Linked DNA regions of Homo sapiens. The protein of the gene in region 1 purifies or fractionates together with the protein of each later gene. This does not show direct contact. Each region holds a gene or a part of one and is shown on either strand. Other genes may lie near its edges.

Evidence for each region.
Region 2: the proteins of MFSD1 (region 1) and TMEM106B purify together in Homo sapiens (affinity purification with mass spectrometry; one large-scale study listed by BioGRID and IntAct). This does not show direct contact.
Region 3: the proteins of MFSD1 (region 1) and PSTPIP2 purify together in Homo sapiens (affinity purification with mass spectrometry; one large-scale study listed by BioGRID and IntAct). This does not show direct contact.

What each region holds. Positions count from the first base shown.
Region 1 is NC_000003.12:158,800,554-158,804,153, forward strand, and holds the start of MFSD1 (lysosomal dipeptide transporter MFSD1), read left to right. Parts: upstream 1-1,500; 5' UTR 1,501-1,599; coding exon 1,600-1,762; intron 1,763-3,600. UniProt on the Homo sapiens protein: Lysosomal dipeptide uniporter that selectively exports lysine, arginine or histidine-containing dipeptides with a net positive charge from the lysosome lumen into the cytosol.
Region 2 is NC_000007.14:12,238,682-12,242,409, forward strand, and holds part of TMEM106B (transmembrane protein 106B), read left to right. Parts: 3' UTR 1-3,728. UniProt on the Homo sapiens protein: In neurons, involved in the transport of late endosomes/lysosomes. May be involved in dendrite morphogenesis and maintenance by regulating lysosomal trafficking.
Region 3 is NC_000018.10:45,995,563-45,999,290, reverse strand, and holds part of PSTPIP2 (proline-serine-threonine phosphatase-interacting protein 2), read left to right. Parts: intron 1-451; coding exon 452-497; intron 498-1,462; coding exon 1,463-1,542; intron 1,543-3,728. UniProt on the Homo sapiens protein: Binds to F-actin. May be involved in regulation of the actin cytoskeleton.

The DNA.
Region 1 (3,600 bases):
CAAGTATGGTGCCAAGGAGGCTAAAAAGGAGTGGCTGTCAATTCCATCAATTGATAGAAGTTGAGTAAGATGACAGAGAAGTGACTAATGTATTTGGAAAGATGGAGTTATTACTCCTCTCGGCAAGACAGTTTTATTAGATCGGGAGCTCCTCCACTGGAGCTGAAGAGAGAATGGACTGTGAAAGTGGAGATATGTATAGACATCTCAAAGGCAGCACCTGATCCTTGACACTCTCTCCTACCTCCTTCTCTCTCTAAATTTTGATCTCTATTGGCGGCCCAAGCTAGAAATCTGGGAGACACTCTCAAGTCTTTCCTCTCTTTCAGATCGCATAGGCTATTATTTACAGTTATTCCCATTTTACCTCCTAAATAATTACTGATTTTCTTCTGTGCCATTCCTGCTTTTTATTGCTAACAGGCCCTCGTCATCTCTAATCGTTACGACTGCAGCATCTTCCTAATAATCCTCACAGTTTTCAGCCTCTAGCTTTGACGCCCTCAAAATTCTGTTAGTAAAGCCTGAGGGCTCCCAGAAAGCGACGATGGTGCTGTGCTGGCAGACCGAATGTTTTTTAAAACACAAAGCTTGCAGTCCTGCTGCTGTGCTCAAAATCCTTGCATGGCTCTTCTTGAAACAGGTTTAGTGTTTCTACTCGAGTTCCTTCTCTGTCGTTCAACACAAACACATACACACCCAGTTCTGTTTCACGCTTTTGTCTTTATTATCCCTCGTAACTGCCCGCCCTGCAACCAACCCGCTCAAACAAGCACCCTGACTGGCGCATTCTTACTCATTCTAGCCTGGGTTTCAACTTCAAGGAGCTTCAGCGCCCCTCACTCCCTTGCCCTGAAAGCTGGCTAAACTACGCACCTTTTCTCCCCTTTTGAAATGACCTTTCCAGATATTTCTATGGAATTCAGTGCCATTTTCTGCCGCTGTTCTCACCACATTCATTCATCATGTTTAGTTTTAAAAGTACCAGATTCTGTCGATTTCTCCAACTGAACTCTGAAATCTTTGAGGTCAGGGAGCTTGCCTCATTCTATTTTGTATTCCCAGTACGTGACACATGGCTGGACACACCAGAAATTGTCCGATCAAGTTTGTGGGTATTAAGAGTGGTCAAAGACGCTGGGGAGGGCAGTGCTGGGAGAAGGGCAGCGCGCGTCTTGGCGACCCCAGCGCAGTTCGAACTACTCCGGAGTCTGGTGTGGAGCCGAGAGGGAGCCCCGCACTTTTCTCCCCGCGGAGCTGCGCTGAGTCTGAAATAGGTGTACGCGTCAGCGGGGCAGGAAACGGAAAGACAGTGCAGTAATTGGTGGAAAGCTGGAAGTGGGCACCTCGAGGGCCTCAGCCCCACGAACACAGTCACCCAGGAAAAGCGAACCGCGCCAGGCCCTGTCATCGACCGCTGGGTCCGTCCTCCCAGCGCTCGCGGCCGCTCACATGGGCGTGGCCCTGCGTGACCTGCCGGGGCGTCACGTGAGCTCCCGGAGTCATGTGACCGCCGTCTTGACAGTGTTCCACGGGCGCTGCTTCCTGCCTGGGTTTGGAGTTGTCACCACTTTCCCCTCTCCGTCTCCTGCGGGCGCAATGGAGGAGGAGGATGAGGAAGCGCGGGCGCTCCTGGCAGGCGGCCCTGACGAGGCCGACAGAGGTGCCCCGGCCGCCCCTGGAGCCCTGCCGGCCCTCTGCGACCCCAGTCGCCTGGCGCACCGGCTTTTGGTGCTGTTACTGATGTGCTTCCTTGGCTTTGGTGAGCCGGCCGGGTGGGTTGGGGCTGATCTTTAAGGAATTCCCGACTTTCTCTTCGAGGTAGATCGTCATCGTGGTCACTGGTGCCACGGGGCCTCAGCGCAGCTTCTGTCTTAAGCTCCTGGGCCTCCTTATTTTCCCCTTTGCGATCGATTCCAGCCACACCTGTGGATGTTGCTAGTTACTCCGCGTCCGGAACGTGGAGGTCGAGGGACTGAGCTGGGCGAGTTTTGTGGCACTCCTTTGCTCTTCAGTAAGTCCCAGGGGCTAGCGACTCGCCCTAGAGGCGATAGATATGAAGGTAACTCCAGATTTTCAAGGTTCCTCTTTTGGCACACGTGGTCGGAGGAAATTCAGAAAGCTTTAACTGTTCCTAAACAACTTTTGTTTGTTTGGTTTTAGGTGAGACAGGGGCTTGCTCTGTCACCCAGCCCGGAGTGCAGTGTTGTGAAAGTGGCTTACTGCAGCCTCCACCTCCTGGGTTCAAGCAATCCTCCCGCCTCAGCCTCCCGAGTAGCTGGGACCACAGATGGGGCGCCACCACACCCGGCTTTATTATTATTATTATTTTTAGACACAGGGTCTTACAATGTTGTCCAGCTTTTAAAAAACGTGAATGATTTCGTCGGCAGTCTTCTATATATTTTTCACCCTCTTTGAGAAAATGTATGAGTGTGTCTTGCTGATAGCTTCAGTGAATAGATATTGTTCTCTTAATCTTCCACTCTGCCACTGTGAAGCAATCATATTGGACGGGACTTGTGGTAGTCTTGACAGTGGTTGGTTTCTCTTATGAAATCTGATGTCTCCGAAAACAGTTTCTTGATAATTAGAAAAAAATTTTCCTTCCTATGTTACAGTTTTTAATTTATTAAGCAAAATTCTAATATTAATTTGGTATGAATGTGTTTTTCAGGAGGCTAGCTGGAGCCCGTGTAATCAGCAGGTTTAAGAACATTATGGTGGATAACTATTCTAGCGCTGAACATATAAGTAGACATGAAGGATGCTTTGGGCTTTGGTTTCCTTGCAACTCCTTTTTCCCCCCTCCCCTGTTTTTTAAAAGATGATGCCCATCCATTAGCTTTAAAGCAGGACGTTGAATCCTTAAAAGAGATTAAAGCAGGGTTTAGAAACAACCACCACCACAACAAAGAAAGAACAACAATAAAACATTAAAAAAAATGGTCCCCACTCAAGCAGACAGACAGTTTTTGGTAAATTCTGGTTATCTGCCTAGAATTCAGAAGCCAGATTCATTCCTTTCTAATGACAGTTTTTATTGTCATTAGAACCAATAGCCTCGTGCACTTGTAGAGTTAGTAGAGCTATGGAGGCAATATTTTCTTGTAGCCTACGAAGGAATCTCAATTATTTTATCTTTAAAATAAATCCGAGTGCATGGTCAGATCTCTCCCTACTTCTCTCTTTCCAGTTCCCCCAAAGACATGTTTTAATTTAATCCTTTAGAATTCTCAGTTTCATTTTTTTTTCACTCCTGGCCCTGTATTCACTAAATTATTTGATTTTGGGTAGTTTGTAGAATTAGAGAACTTGTTTCAAATATTGGTTTTGTCAGAATGGTTACACTCCATTCCTTTGTCCTTAAGCTAACATTATTAGGAAACTGATGAGGTTGTAAAGTTTTTAGTGTATGTGTGTTTGTAAATAAGGAAATAAATAAAATATAGATGCTTCATGAAGATATTAATAAAATAGTATATGTGTGAAGCATGATGAAAGTAAAATAGAAAAATATTTAATTGTTGGTTGTTGACTTTTTAATTCAGGTTCCCAGTATTTGCTGTGTATGAACACTACCAATTTATGGAAGTTATT
Region 2 (3,728 bases), on another chromosome or scaffold:
CATTAATCTATTTGTACATCATCAGAGCTGTTGGGTGACCAGGTACATTGTCAATGAGTAGTAATACTTTGAAAGGAATTTTTTTTTCCAAGCAGGTCTCAACAATGGGCTTAAAATATTCAGTGAACCGTGTTGTAAACAGATGTCATATTATCCAGACTGTTCCATTTATTGAACACAGGCAGAGTAGGTAAAAGTTTTAAGGGTCCTAGGATTTTCAGGATGGCAAATGAGCATTGGCTTCAACTTAAAGTCACCAGCTACATTCACCACTAAAGAGAGTCAGCCTGTCCTTTAAAGCTTTAAAGGCAAGCATTGACTTCTCTTTAGCTATGAAAGTTTTAGATGGCACCTTTTTGTAAAAGAAGGTTGTTTTATCTACATTGAAAATATATTGTTCATTGTAACCACTTTCATCAATGATCTTAGCTAGATATTCTGGGTAACTTACTGCAGGTTCTCCATCAGCACTTACTGCTTCACCTTGCACTTTTATATTATGGAAACAACTTATCTCCTTAAACATCATTAACCAACCTCTTGGTAGCTTCCAACTTTTCTTCAATAGCTTCCTCATCTCTCTCAGCCTTCATAGAATTGAAGCGTGTTAGGGCTTTGTTCAGGATTAGGCTTTCACTTAAGGCAATGTTGTGGCTGGTTTGATCTATTGAAACCACTAAAACATTCCCATATCGGCAATAAGGCTGTTTGATTTTCTTATCATTCATGTTTTCTGGAACACTTTTCAATTACTTACAGTAAGGAAATAGCACTTTTAATTTCCTTCAAGAACTTTTCCTTTGCCTTCACAACTTGTGCAAGAGACCTAGCTTTCAGCCTATCTTGACTTTCCAAGATTGTCCTTGGTGAGAAATGCTTGATTACTAGGTGTAATTATTTCTAGCTTTTGATTGAAAGTGAGAGATATGTGACTCTTCCTTTTACTTGAACAGTTAGAGGCTATTGTAGGATTATTAATTGGCCTAATTTCAATGTTATTTTGTCTCAAGGAGAGAGGGATGTGGGAACAGCTGGTTAGGAGAGCAGTCCGAACACACACTTTTTTTTATTACTTTCACTGCCTTACATGGGTATGGTTCATGCTGCCTCCAAATACTTACAAAAACATCAAAGATCACTGATTACAGATCATTAAAATAGGTTTAATAATAATGGAAACATTTGAAATATTGCAAAAATTACCAAAATGCGACAGAGACATGAAATGAGAACATGCTGTTGAAAAAAATGGCACTCATAGACTTGTTGGACACAGGATTGAAAGAAACCAATTCATCAAAACCACAATATCTGCAAAACGCAATAAGGTGATGCACAATAAAAGGAAGTATATCTGCACTTCCTTCTTTTTTACTGAAAAAGCCCAAGTTCTTACTCTGGTGTTGAGAACCTTTCATTAGCTGGCTACAATCTCAGTTCACAATCATTTCTTATTGCCCTTCAACAATGTCCTGACCAAATCGAGTTCTTTCTCATTGGGAACAGTTCATTCCTTTATCCCTTCGCTCATTCTGTTCCTTTTTTCTTAGAAAAATTATTTGCCCATGTTTTTTATCCCCCAATTCTATCTTTTTCAATGCCCACTTCGTGTCCAACCCCTCTCTACTTTCCCTCTAAACTTACTCAAACACTTGGTGAACTTTTTCTGAATGTTTTTTCTGAATGTTTACTTTTAAAGGAGTTGCCCAGTCACAAAGTTTGAGCCAAGTTTTTTTGTTTTAAACTTGTTTTAAACTTTTGTTTTCATCAACTTTTTTCAAACAATTTTTGTCAGCTTAGAGGTTGTGTTTTAATTACTATTTTTAAAATCTTGTATGAGGTAGTATGATTTGAAATTAGATGGAATGTGCCCAAAATTATCTCTGTAGAATAATATGGAAAAACGAAAATGAAAAGATGTATTACCTGAATGTGCTCCTCCTAGCCAGTTTCTCAAGGGAGAAGAATCATTAATAAGTTTGTGAGGCTTTTTTTTTTTTTCTGGTAGATTTCTGTTTCCTTGATCAGTGGTTTTTCAGAATTTTTTAAAGCTTGTGAAATACTTATTTGTAAATAGCATCTTATGAGGAACCTTGATATGTGACAAAACAGATGCTTTGATTTGAGAGCAGAAGACCTGCAGCCCCTGACTGCTCACCTTTCCAGGGACCCCTGAACATTGGCCTAGAGGGTAGTGTACAGTCACTTCTTCAGTGATAACTTACTGAGTGTGATTCAACAAAACTGCTTTGGTTTATGGGTGAAACATAATTTATAACTAGGCAAATGTCAGCTTAAATTTATATTTTCTAAATAGCACTGAAAATGACAATAGACAAATGTAATTTCTGATTTTTAAGAAATGATTTTCCATTTTAACATACATTTTAAATGTTTTGTCTTCAAAGGGAATCCTTAAAAATGATATATTGGAAACCACTGATTTCTTATTTTCATTTCATGAATTTCAGATTCATGAATGGAATATATTGATAATAGCATTTTTTAAGTTGCCCCAAAAAGATGAAATACAAATAATTTTAATCCCAAATCTATTTCAGACACCTAACTTTTTTTTTATTTTTTATACTTTAAGTTCTAGGATACATGTGCAGAACGTGCAGGTTTGTTACATAGGTATACACGTGCCATGTTGGTTTGCTGCACCCATCAACCCGTCATCTACATTAGATATTTCTACTAATGCTATCCCTCCCCTAGCCCCCTACCCCACAAAAGGCCCCAGTGTGTGATGTTCCCCTCCCTGTGTCCATCTGTTCTCATTGTTCAACTCCCACTTATGAGTGGCAACATGTGCTGTTTGGTTTTCTGTTCCTGTGTGTGTTTGCTGAGAATGATGGTTTCCAGCTTCATCCATATCCCTGAAAAGGACATGAACTCATCCTTTTTTATGGCTGCATAGTATTCCATGGTGTATATATGCCACATTTTCTTTATCCAGTCTATCATTGATGGACATTTGGGTTGGTTCCAAGTCTTTACTATTGTGAACAGTGCTGCAATAAACATATGTGTGTATGTGTCTTTACAGTAAAATGATTTATAATCTTTTGGGTATACACCCAGTAATGGGATTGCTGGGTCAAATGGTATTTCTGGTTCTAGATCCTTGAGGAATCACCACACTGTCTTCCACAATGGTTGCAATTTACACTCCCACCAACAGTGTGTAAAAGCTTCCTATTTCTCTACATTCTCTCCAGCATCTGTTGTTTCCTGACTTAATGATTGCCATTCTAACTGGCGTGAGATGGTTTCTCACTGTGGTTTTGATTTGCATTTCTGTAATGACCCGTGATGATGAGCTTTTTTTCATGTTTGTTGGCTGCATAAATGTCTTCTTTTGAGAAGTGTAAGGTACTTAATTCTTAAATTAAAAAAAAATACCCGGCCGGGCACGGTGGCTCACGCCTGTAATCCCAGCACTTTGGGAGGCCGAGGCGGGTGGATCATGAGGTCAAGAGATCGAGACCATCCTGGCTAACAAGGTGAAACCCCGTCTCTACTAAAAATACAAAAAATTAGCCGGGCGCGGTGGCGGGCGCCTGTAGTCCCAGCTACTCGGGAGGCTGAGGCAGGAGAATGGCGTGAACCCGGGAAGCGGGGCTTGCAGCGAGCCGAGATTGCGCCACTGCAGTCCGCAGTCCGGCCTGGGCGACAGAGCGAGACTCCGTCTCAAAAAAAAAAAAAAAAAAAAAAAAAAAATA
Region 3 (3,728 bases), on another chromosome or scaffold:
AAAACCACTGCCACATATTTGGGGGTTAGGGGAAGAGCGACAGAAGCATGGCTATGAGGGAGGGAGATGGGGTGATAAGAGGTTGGAGGGATTTCCCAGTTGTTGTCATTTTTCTTAAAGACTCAGTTCATGTATTCTTTGTAGTCAGGCTGCCTTTTGCTTGGGTGGATTACAAATTTAACTTTGTAAAATCTAGATACAAGATTTCTGCAACCAGAGGGCTGGGTGTGTCTTTAGGAAGACACTGGGCAAGATGCTTTATGGATATTTTCCAAGATTGATAAGATTGCAGGGCACGTTGAATGATTTGCTCATGAGGGAAATGTACACAGGACTTGCACTAGACCTGGTCTCTTCATAGTTACTGCTTTTCAATCTGTTTTGCCTGTGGAAGCCTCGTCCAGCATTCCCAATGCTTGCTCTTTTTTTGTTTGTTTGTTTGTTTTCACAGCTTTTTGTGAAACTGGCAACTTCAAAGACCGCAGTAGAGGACTCAGGTGAGGGGGCAGTTCCTACGGATGGGGGAGGGTTGCTGGTGGGGTTTACGTTATCCTAAATGTGTCCCTGAGAAAGGGAGTTTTATATACCTTAAAGAGAGAATATATGGATATTCAGCAGGATTAGTGAGATATCTGAAGGGAAAAAGGGAGGAAGGAAGGGAGAGAGTAAGGAAGGGAGGGAGGAAAGGAAAGAAGAGGAGAGAGGAAGGGAGGGTATATTAGAACCCCGGAAGGTGGGAGGAGGCTATGAGGCCACTGTTTCTGGCTTCTGTCTGCTTAGATCTTGCTGCCTTACATGGGAGTGAGATGGTGGAGTCATGTGGTAGCGGCTTTGCAATCAGGTGCTTCCTCTGATGTATTGGGGCATCTATCTAAAAGACCATTTCAGCCCCGGTAGCTCTTATCTGCTGTGAAACAGCCAAGCTGCAAGGCCTTGTTATCACTGAAATCTAAGACCCAAACCAGGCATTTGCAAAAGCTTCTAATTCCCAGAATATCCTGCAGGAAATATCCCTCATGACTGTGGTGGTTATGTACATCTTAATCTCTACATTTGAAACTAAAGTAACTTGGTGCCCCTTTAGGGCTCAAGGTAGTTCTCTTCTCTGCATCCTTCATCAGACAATTTTGAAAATGAAAAGCGATGGGAAATACTGAGGTGGAATTACACAAACAAAACCCTGGCTGAGGTTTCTTATCAGCTTTCACTTCTTCCTTAGAACCTTTCTTTCTCAATGTTAGGTCCAATGTTTAAAAAGAAAGTGATACCCTCCTTTGCCTACTTCACCAAATATGATGAGGGTGAGAGATGCAATAACTCCCAGTGCTCAGAGTCCTGGGGGCCTTGTAAGCTCAGCACAACTCGGATGAGTTTCTTTTGCCATCTGAGACCAGCCTGTGGGTGTATCTGCGAGCCACCTTCCTGTCTAGTTTCTGACCCAGGTCTCTCCCTTCTGTTGCAGACAAAGCATACATGCTGCACATCGGCACCCTGGATAAGGTCCGAGAAGAGTGGCAGAGTGAGCACATCAAGGCCTGCGAGGTACCCGTAACCGGAAGCTGCTCAGGACTGGGGTGGGTGGGTGGGGGTGTGTGTAACAGGAAGCTGCTCAGGACGGGGGGGGGAGGGGAGGAGGGGGAGGGGAGGGAGGGAAGGGGGAGTGGGGCCGGGGGTTGGGGGAGGACGAGGGGGCGGGAGGTGGGTCTTCTGCCCAGAACCTGGAGAGTCTACTTTTGTAGAAATGATCTGCCCGGATTCTCATAGGGTTACAGAGCTTGAGGGCAAATTAGAAATCAGAAATTTGGCCAGGCACGGTGGCCCATGCCTGTAATCCCAGCACTTTGGGAGGCCGAGGTGGGTGGATCACCTGAGGTCAGGAGTTCAAGACCATCTGGCCAACATGGTGAAACCCTGTCTCTACTAAAAATACAAAAATTAGCCGGGTGTGGTGGCGCACACCTGTAATCCCAGCTATTCTAGAGGCTGAGGCAGGAGTATAGCTTGAACCTGGGAGGCGGAAGTTGCAGTGAGCCAAGATAGTGCCATTGCACTCCAGCCTGGGCGACAGAACAAGACTCCGTCTCCAAGAAAACAAACAAACAAAAAAAGAAATCAGAAATTTAAGTGAAGAATGGAAGGAACTGGAATAGTTTTCCCCAAACCTTGTCTGCCTCATCCCCATCCTGACCATGCTGTCCAACAGTTCAAATTTTAGTCTAATGTTGGGTTAGCACAAGCATAGAATAGCTGAATCAGTTAATGGTCGATTAAGTAATTATCTTTGGAGAGCCCGGCCTCAATAGGCTCTAAAGGGAATGCCAACAGCAAGTGAGTAGGCTTTGGAGATTTGTTTGTTTGCTTTTTGTTTTGAGTCTGGGTCTCACTCTGTCGCCCAGGCTGGAGTGCAGTGGCATGATCAGAGCTCACTGCAGCCTGAAACCCCATGAGCTCAAGTGAAGTAGATGGGACTACAGGCGTGCACCACCACGCCTTGTTAATTATTTATTATTTATTTTATTTTTAAAGAGACAGGGACTTGCTCTGTTGCCCAGGCTGGTCTTGAGCTCCTGGGTCTCAAGCAATCCTTCCACCTTTGCCTCCTGAGTTGCCAGGGTTACAGGCATGAGCCACCATGCCTGGCTGGAGGGTTTTCTTTTTTTTTTTTACTCTCCTCATACCTTCAATTTCACCACTGCTCCCTTTCTTTTGCAGCAAATGACCTCACAATTTCCAAGAGAAAATAAAAAACATAACTTGGAAGCTTGCTTAAGTTTCTGTCATCCTGCCTACACATTTTCTTCCAGTGGTTCTCAAAGTGAGGTCCTAGGACTGGTAGCATCAGCATCACCTGGGAACTTGTTAGAAATGCAGGTTCTCAGACCAACCTCAGACCTACCGAATCAGAAACTCTGGGGGTAAAGCCCAGCAATCTCTGTGCTAATAAGCCTTCCAAGTGATTTTGATGGGAATTCAAGTATAAGAATCATTGACAGACACGCCTGCCCCACTCCTTTTTTCCTGTTAGCACAGAAAAGGGGCTGTTCCTTCCTTGTTCAAGATCTTTTTTCATCCAGCTTGCCTTTCCCCACCTTCTTGGGCATGGAGAACTTGTCAACTTCTGTTATCTTGCACACAGACTCAACTCTCTCCTAGCTTTAAAACCCACCAGTTCAGCCAGGCATGGTGGCTGCTAATGCCTGTAATCCCAGCACTTTGGGAGGCCAAGGCAGGCAGATCACCTGAGGTCAGGAGTTCAAGACCAGTCTGGACAACATAGTGAAACCCAGTCTCTACTAAAAATACAAAAATTAGCTGGATGTGGTGGCAAGCACCTGTAATCCCAGCTACTTGGGAGGCTGAGGTGGGAAAATCACTTGAGCCCGGGAGGTGGAGGTTTCAGTGAGCTGAGATCATGCCACTACACTCTAGCCTGGGCAACAGAGTTAGACTCCATCTCAAAAAAACCCAAAAAGCAAAAAACAAAACCAGCAGTTCTTACTTTCTATCTACGACCCCTACTACCCCCGCCCTTCTTCACAGCCACGCTTTTTGAAGGGGCTGTCTCCAAGTCCATGTTGTCCTGACTGCCCCAGCCTGCAGCATCTGGGATTTGCTTCCCTGCAGCTGCTGTCTTGGAGGGCACCAGAATCCCTTGGCATGAGGGCCAGTGGGCCTTTGCAGTTTCTAATCTTATTTGATCTCTCTTTGCCATCTGATACTGTAGGTTA